Linked DNA regions of Homo sapiens: region 2 is linked to region 1. Evidence: fine-mapped expression QTL. Tissue or cell type: whole blood. Region 1 holds a variant in brackets; the other region holds the start of a gene. All regions are shown on one strand. Distances are between the middles of the regions.

What was found. PIP is the estimated chance that this variant, and not a neighbour inherited with it, causes the effect.
Region 2: it holds the start of CASTOR2, and the variant in region 1 is fine-mapped to the expression of CASTOR2 in whole blood (INTERVAL, PIP above 0.99).

What each region holds. Positions count from the first base shown.
Region 1 is chr7:75,022,547-75,026,706 of GRCh38, forward strand. CASTOR2 (cytosolic arginine sensor for mTORC1 subunit 2) reads left to right here. Exons shown (of 9, transcript NM_001145064.3): 8 at 1,894-1,988; 9 at 2,088-4,160. The coding sequence ends at 2,153. Among named protein-coding and RNA genes, the nearest start is that of RCC1L, 49 kb to the right of the region's middle. The variant C/A (reference allele first, on the strand shown) is at 2,464.
Region 2 is chr7:74,962,210-74,966,369 of GRCh38, forward strand. CASTOR2 (cytosolic arginine sensor for mTORC1 subunit 2) reads left to right here and starts at 2,496. Exons shown (of 9, transcript NM_001145064.3): 1 at 2,496-2,889. The coding sequence starts at 2,777. RefSeq lists a silencer at 2,234-2,343.

The DNA.
Region 1 (4,160 bases):
AATCCCAGGTCTTTGGGAGGCCGATGCAGGTGGATCACCTGAGGTCAGGAGTACCAGCCTGGCCAATATGACGAAACCCCATGTCTACTAACAATACAAAAAATTGGCCAGGCACAGTGGCGTGCGCCTGTAATCCCAGCTACTCAGGAGGCTGAGATGGGAGAATCGCTTGAACCCAGGAAGCAGAGGTTGCGATGAGCCAAGATCGCTCCATTGCACTCCTGCCTGGGCAACAGAGCAAGACTCTGTCTCAAAAAATAATAATAAATTTAATTTAAAAAAGAATAAATTGGGGCTGTGATAAAAATTAAAGAGAAAAAAAATCACTCCTTATTTCCACAGCTCAAAGATAATAACTGCTGGCAATTTTTTAACATGTTTTCTTCACGTAAATACATGTAATTGTCACATATCTCCCAGAGAGTCTGACACCCAACACTTTACTCCTAAATGCCTCGCCTTTTCCATCCTGGGAAGAAGCACCGGGCAAGGTGGCTTACGCCTGTAATCCCAGCACTTTGGGAGGCCGAGGCAGGAGGATCACAAGGTCAGGAGATCGAGATCATCCTGGCTAACACAGCAAAACCCTGTCTCTACTAAAAATACAAAAAATTAGCCGGTCGTGGTGGCAGGCGCCTGTAGTCCCAGCTACTTGGGAGGCTGAGGCAGGAGAATGGCATGAACCTGGGAGGCGGAGCTTGCAGCAAGCCGAGATGGCGCCACTGCACTCCAGCCTGGGCGACAGAGCGAGAGTCCACCTCAAAAAAAGAAAAAAAAAAGAAGAAACACTTTCTCCTATATAACCACAATGACAGGATTCCACAGGAGAAAATTTTCAGTCATTCCCTAAGACTTAGTCTTTCCTCTGTTTCCACAGTTGTCCAGACAACGTCTTTGGTGGATAGCATTTTTTTTTTCTTTTTGTTTTTTGTTTTTTTTTTTTTTGAGACCGGATCTTGCTCTGTTGCCCAGGCTGAAGTGCAATGGCGCAGTCTTCGCCTCCTGGGTTCAGCCTCCCAAGTAGCTGGGACTATAGGCACGTGCCACCACGCCCGGCTAATTCTTGTAGTTTTAGTAGAGATGGGGTTTCACCATGTTGGCCAGGCTGGTCTCGAACTCCTGACCTCAAGTGATCCACCCGCCTCGGCCTCCCAAAGTGCTGGGATTACAGGCGTGAGCCACCACTCCCAGCCAAGGTGCCACACTTTTAAATAGCCAGATCTCGTGAGGACTTACTGTCACGAGAACAGTACCAAGAGGATGAGGCTAAACCATTCATGAGGAATCCACCCTCATAATCCAGTCATCTTGCACCAGGCCCCACCTCCAATACTTGAGATTACAATTGGAGGATTTGGGCAGGAACACAAAGCCAAACTATTTCACTGGCCAGCGACCAGAGAAGGCTCCTGGTTGGGGGACATCTGGGTTAAGCCTTCAAGAGGGATGGCCAGTGGGAGGCCAGGCACGGTGGCTCACGCCTGTAATTCCAGCACTTTGGGATGTGGAGGTGGGTGGATCATTTGAGTACAGCAGTTCGATACCAGCCTGGCCAACATGGTGAAACCCCATCTCTACTAAAAATACAAAAAAATTAGCTGGGCATGGTGGTACACGCCTATAATCCCAGCTATTTGGGAGGCTGAGGCACGAGGATTGCTTGAACTCAGGAGGTGGAGGTTGTAGTGAAGTGAGCTCACGCCAGTGCACTCCAGCCTGGGCGATGGAGCGAGACTCCATCTCAAAAAAAATAAAAGGGATAGCAGATGGGAATTCTCTAGGAGGATGGTGGGTGCAGGGTAGGCATTGCCCACAGAGGGTAGAGGCTGAAGAGCCACACAGGCAAGGGTAGCCAGGTTACACAGAGGCTAAGGACGGTCTCTCCTGTTCTAGATGAGTGTGGCATCGTGGCCCAGATCTCAGAGCCCTTGGCTGCTGCAGACATCCCAGCCTACTACATCAGTACTTTCAAGTTTGATCATGCACTTGTGAGTGTCCAGCGCCAGACCCCTCCAGGGCAGGGCCGGGGTGGGGAAGCAGGTTCCTGGGCTCACGGGCAGGCATCTGCCTCCTCTACCCCTGCACAGGTCCCCGAAGAGAACATCAATGGTGTCATCAGTGCCCTGAAGGTCAGCCAAGCAGAGAAGCACTAGAAGGGTCTCTTCTGCTCCTCCCTGCCGCCGCCCGGGCCCAGCCCTAACCCTGAAGATTGATCTTGCAGTATTTCTCTACAGACTGGAAAATCAGCCTGGGGACCCTGAGGAAGGGGCCTCTGTGGGAGACTCCCTCGATTGCCAATCCCTCCAGGGCAGGGGCCCACGCCAAGGCCTCTCCATGCCCTCCTGCCTTCCCGGAGCCCCCCGACCCTCCAGAGAACGACCTTTCTCTTCCCTACCTCCCCCACCCCGGAAAATGCTTTCGGAGGCCCAGGGAGCTTGTGAGCTGATCCGCCTTCTCATCCGG[C/A]CTCACCCACGGCCAGGGGCAGATGCCGAGGGAAGCCGGTCCCTCCTGCGAGACACCGGTGTGCCAGCTGTCATGTCACCTTGCAGGGCTGGGGCTGGCGGGGTGGGGCCGAGTTTGGGGTGCCCTGGAGGGTTTGGGGGTGAGTACTGTGGTCACTGGTCTCTGCTTCCATCAGCTCAGGGCTGGTTCCCTCGGAGTGGAGGCCAGCGTGGCCCCCTCAGGTCATCGGGGCTGGTGAGGCTCAGACAGGAACCCAGGTGGGATCCCCGAGCTGGGAAGGACCCAGACTCCCCCTGTACCTCGCCTGCCAACCACAGGGCCTGGGCCCGACTCCCAGCAAGACTGCCAAGAGGGCCCTGTCCAGACCCTCCCCCACAAGCACTCAGTCCTTGGGGGAGGAGGGAGGGTCCCAGGAGACCCACCAGCCTGGAGCACCAGCTCCTGTCCCCTCGGCTCTCCCTGGACCCGACTTGGGCAGGTAGAGCCTCAGCTTCCCCCAGTAGGGACATCCCTGGCTTTCCAGGCCTGAGGTTTCTTAGGTGGTGTCCCACCTCCCCAACAGACAACTAGACCAGCATAGGACTCCCCGCCGTCCTCCTCCCTCCTCTGCCCCCAAGTCACCTGCCTGCCCACCCGCCCCTTGGCTGGGGGCTGTGGCATTCATGAGTACTTGACCCAGGAGGCAGCTTAACTGAGCCTTAATAGAGAAAACCATACTTTGTTTTAGTTTTTTATTTAATGTATTTGCACCCAGGGTGCTCTTGGCGGTAGTTTCTGTTTGGCAGGGATAGGACCTGTTTGAGTTCTGTCAAGGGAGCCTGGAGGCTCTGTGTCACTAAGCTGGTGCTCTGTGGCTCCAGGGACAGGCAGTGGGAATCGGGAGATGTCACAGGAGCCTGGGCCCTCTCTTCTGAAGGGAAGCTAGGAGCAGAGATCTGTTACAAGACGCTGGAGCCGCTGGCACCCCACATGGGAACTCCCACCAACCAGCTGTAGTTCTATCTGAGCACCGGAGGGGGTGAGGGAACCCGAGGGCCATGGGGAGGTGGACAGCCAGGTGGCAGGCCAGCTGAGTGGTCATGTCCAGGAGGCATGGGGTTAGCCGTGGTGTCCCTTCCAGTGGGGTGGTTTTCTGAATGAGCAGGACCAAGGGCCCCTGTGGTTTTGGCTCTGGCGGGGGTTTTTTTTTTTTTTTTTGAGATGGGAGTCTGGCTCTGTTGCCTAGGCTGGAATGCAGTGGCACGATCTTGGCTCACTACACCCTCCTCCTCCCAGGTTCAAGTGATTCTCCTGCCTCGGCCTCCCAAGTAGCTGGGATTACAGGCACGCACCACCACGTCTGGCTAGTTATTGTATTTTTTAATAGAGACGGGATTTCGTAACATTGCTCAGGCTGGTCTTGAACTCCTGAGTTAAGTGATCCGCCTGCCTCGGCCTCCCAAAATGCCGGGATTACAGGCGTGAGCCACCACACCCAGCCGAGTTGTGCTGTTTCTGTGGTCAGAGGAGAAGGGATATTTTCTAGTCCTGACAAAGTGTTCCCTGCTTCTCTGAGTGGGACCCTCTGAGCCCTGGAAGCCCACCAGAAGGAGAAGCTGTTCTTTAAAATCCTTGTGGGTGTTGAAGGCCCACCACATTAATTAGAAACCAACTTTTTTTTTTTTAAGTTAATTTGTTTTGCACAAAACTCCAGAACA
Region 2 (4,160 bases), 60 kb before region 1:
GGCGCGATCTCAGCTTACTGCAGCCTCCACCTCCTGGGTTCAAGCGATTCTCCTGCCTCAGGAGAAGGCACCACCATGCCCAGCTAATTTTTTTGTGTTTTTAGTAGAGACGAGGTTTCACCATGTTTGTCAGGCTGGTCTCAAACTCCTGACCTCAAATGATCTACCCTCCTTGGCCTCCCAAAGTGCTGGGATTACAGGCGTGAGTCACCGCGCCCAGCCACATTTCCAACTATCTGATAGCCAACTGCTTCACACATCTGTGTAATCTGTCTGGCCCCTGAATGCATTTCTGTTTGGGATTTCTGGATCTCTAGATTCTAAAGGCATAGATAGGTGCATTGATGCATTCCACAAATATTGAATGAGTGTCTCTCATAGGCCAGTCACTATTGCTGACAATGGGAACACAGCGGAGAACAGACAAAAATCACTGCCTTTGTGGAGTTGAGATTGTGTAGGGGAGAGACAGATAAGCTTTAAAAAAAAAATGCTGAGGCTGGAGGATCACTTGAGGCTGGGAGTTCGAGACTAGCCTGAACAACATAGTGAGACACCCCTCTCTACAAAAAGTAAAAAAAAAGGCCGGGTGTGGTGGCTCACGCCTGTAATCCCAGCAATTTGGGAGGCCGAGGCGGGCGGATCATGAGGTCAGGAGATCGAGACCATCCTGGCTAACACAGTGAAACCCTGTCTCTATTAAAAATACAAAAAAATTAGCCGGGTGTGGTGGCGGGCACCTGTAGTCCCAGCTACTCGGGAGGCTGAGGCAGGAGAATGGCGTGAACCTCGGAGGGGGAGGTTGCAGTGAGCCGAGATCGTGCCACTGCACTTCAGCCTGGGTGATGGAGCAAGATTCCGACTCAAAAAAAAAAAAAAAAAAGGCCAGGCATGGTGGCTTATTGGCTTATGCCTGTAATCCCAGCAGTTTGGGAGGCCGAAGTGGGTGGATCACCTGAGGTCAGGAGTTCAAGACCAGCCTAGGCAACATTGCGAAAAATACAAATATTAGCCAGCCGTGGTGGCCAGCACCTGTAATCCCAGCTAGCTGGGAGGCCAAGGCACGAGAATCGCTGAACCAAGGGGGAGGAGGTTGCAGTAAGCCAAGATCGCGCCATGGCACTCTAGCCTGGGCGACAGAGCAAGACTCCATCTCGGGGGGGAAAAAAGAAAGTTAAAAAAAAAAAAAAATTAGCCAGGCATAACTGTAGTCCCAACTGCTGGGGAAGCTGGGGTGGGAGGATCTTTTAAGCCCAGGAGTTCGAGGCTGTAGTGAGCTATGATTGCGCCCCTGCACTCCATCCTGGCCAACAGAGCAAGACCCTGTCTCTAAAAAATAAATAAATAAAAGAAAAAGAGTAAAAGAAAATAAAGTGGGAGGGGGATATGCATGCTCTAAGATCTATCTACCACAGATTACAGGCTTTTCACCCTTTTGTGGAAATGACAAAACCTAGTATGTTCCTACCTAACAGAGGAGGGCTGAGGGAAGGTGAGGGAGCACAACTGCAATTTTCCCCTGAAAGAGAGTTCTCAGCCTGCCCTGGCAGATAGATCTCACCCATCGCGTCCCCAGATTACTCTGCCAAAGGTGGAAGCACCAATCACTTTAACCCAGAACATTTCAAAACCAGACAGCCATGAAGGAGGAACCTCTGTGGTCCCGGCGCGTGGGCCCTGGGGTTGGAAGTGCCTCAGACGCACTTTACATTTTCCCCGAATTCACCCTTCGCAGTCCCCATCACCCCCTCTCCAGTGGGATAAATGGCCACCTCATTAGCTCTGCACACATGACCCTCCCGACCTGACTCCTGGTGACTATGCCTGCCTTATCTCTTTTCTCTCCTCCCTCACATTTTCCGCTGCAACAAAGCCAAACACAGCACCGTGGGGGCTTTCACGCTTCTGTGCCCTAGGACACGCTGTTCCTGCAGCCTGGAAGGCCTCTGTCCTCCATCCGCGCGCCCTCACTCTCTTGCTACGAACTCCCATTCATCCTTCAAAACCCAGCCTGAGTGTCCCCTCCCCCGGGTCACCCCCTTTGACCTGTCAATCCCCTCCCTCCGGGTCCCCAGCAAGCTTTTCGGTTTGGCTTCTCTGCACTCTCATGACCGATTGCCCTACATCTTGGCGCTCCCAGACTCGGGCCTTCTCCAGCACCGGAGTCGTCTGGTTTGCTCGCTTTACACTCCAAGCACCTAGTACCGAGCCTGACTGGGTGCCAGAGGGCGCGCCTAGGCTCAGGCTGGCTCCACCCGCCCCGTGCCTCCCCTCGGCCTTCCCCTTAGTCCTGAGGGTGCCCGCGCTCCTGCATTTCCCGTGCACCGGGCTGCCGGTAGCTCCGGCCGCCCAGCCCCCGCGGCAGCAACAGCAGCAACAGCACCGGGGGAGCCCCCCCCCAGGCGGACTACAAGTCCCGGCAGGCCGCGCGCGGGCCGCGCATGCGCAGCGGGGACCGGCGTTTGAGTGGCAAGTTGTTTGTTACAGCGAACACCAGCTGCTCCCCGCGCCGGGCGCCGCGCGCCGCTGCTCCGCCGCTCGGCCCCTCGGCTGCTGCTCCGCCGGCGCTGCCTCCCTCGCCCCGCGGCTCCCCCTTGCAACTTGGCGGGCCTCCTCCCTTTTGTCCGGCCCGGCCCGGCCGCCGCCGCCCCCCGCGCCCGGCGCCGAGCTCCCGGGTCTCCGGGCCGGCTGTCGGTGCCGGCAGGGCGCGGAGGGGGCGGGGGCCGCGGCTCGTCCCCCCGCGGATGAGCCGCCGCGGACGGGGCGCGGGCGGACGATGGAACTCCACATCCTGGAGCACCGGCTGCAAGTTGCCAGCGTCGCCAAGGAGAGTATCCCGCTGTTCACCTACGGCCTGATCAAACTTGCCTTCCTGTCCTCCAAGACCAGGTAAGCGCGCGGGGACGCGGCGCCGGCCGGGGACAGACAAAGGGGGCGCACCCCGGGCCGCTGTCCTCGCCGCCGCGCCTCGGAAAACAACTTCGGGCCCCGGGAGCGCCCCCGCCCCGCCCCCGCCGCCGCTTCGCTCGCGTCTGACAAAGCCGGAGCCGCAGGGTCCTGGCTCCCGGACCCCTCGCAACCTTCCACCCCCCGGTGCGCCACCCCCCACCTCTGTCGTCCCCCCCATCTCCCACCCCCTCCCCCATCGCAGCCCCCTCCCCGAAATCCGGGGGGCTGGGGCGGCTGCAGTGACGGATCCGTGAATGGATGAAGGAACGAACGAATGAATGAATGAAAAACAGGTGTGGGGACGAGGCCGTGGAAAAAACAAACGCCCCCATCCCCCCATCCCTCGGTTGGGCCGGCCCCGTCGCCACGGCGGGGGGAGGGATTCCGCTGAGCGCGGTTACCCAGAGCAGAAAATCATAAAATCATTAGTGGGTGTTTATCTCAAGGTGCCTACGAGGCTTGCTGCGGACGGCCTGGAATTGCGGGGGGGAAACGGGGGGTGGGCGAGGGCCAGGGAGGGGCTGCAGAGGACGTGATTCTTTCTCCTTGGGGTCCTGGAAAGGGGGTGGGGGGGTGTTTTGCCCAACCGTAGAAGGGGAGGAGCAGGCATGTTTATGCATCTGCCTTGAGGCTGGGCTTGGATGCTGCAGGGGGAAAAATAGTTGAAGGCCTTGGAAGGTAAAAGAGGGAATCACACACACACACACACACACACACACACACACTCTCTCTCTCTCTCTCTCTCTCTCTCTCTCACTTGGATTTTCCCTATGCCAGGTAAGGGTTTGACATTGTGAGCCCCGGTGGGTGCTTGCATTAGGGTTTTGTTGTTGTTGTTTAAGGAGCCTGAGCCGAGGGGAGTGTGAGTGCCAGCTAGCTGCTGTAACTTAAGTCTCATTTGCCCACCATTGTGACTGTTAAAAAGGAATGATAAAGTTGTTACTGGTTGGTTTTTCGCGGTTTGGGGCGGTGGTGGCTCTCCCTCACTGCAAAATGAATGAATACTTTTCGGGTCAAGGTTAGCGTGAAAATGACAGCCCCCTTAGGCTGCCCCCTTTGGCACTGAGCTCTAGGGACACAGGGAAATAATTCCAGCCTGTTATCTGCCTGTGAAAAGTTCTTGCTTGGAAATCTCACTTTGATGTGTGTGTCTGAGCCGGGTGCTCAGTCCGGCTATTGTTTGCGAGATGGAGCCAGACCTGCCGGTGGCA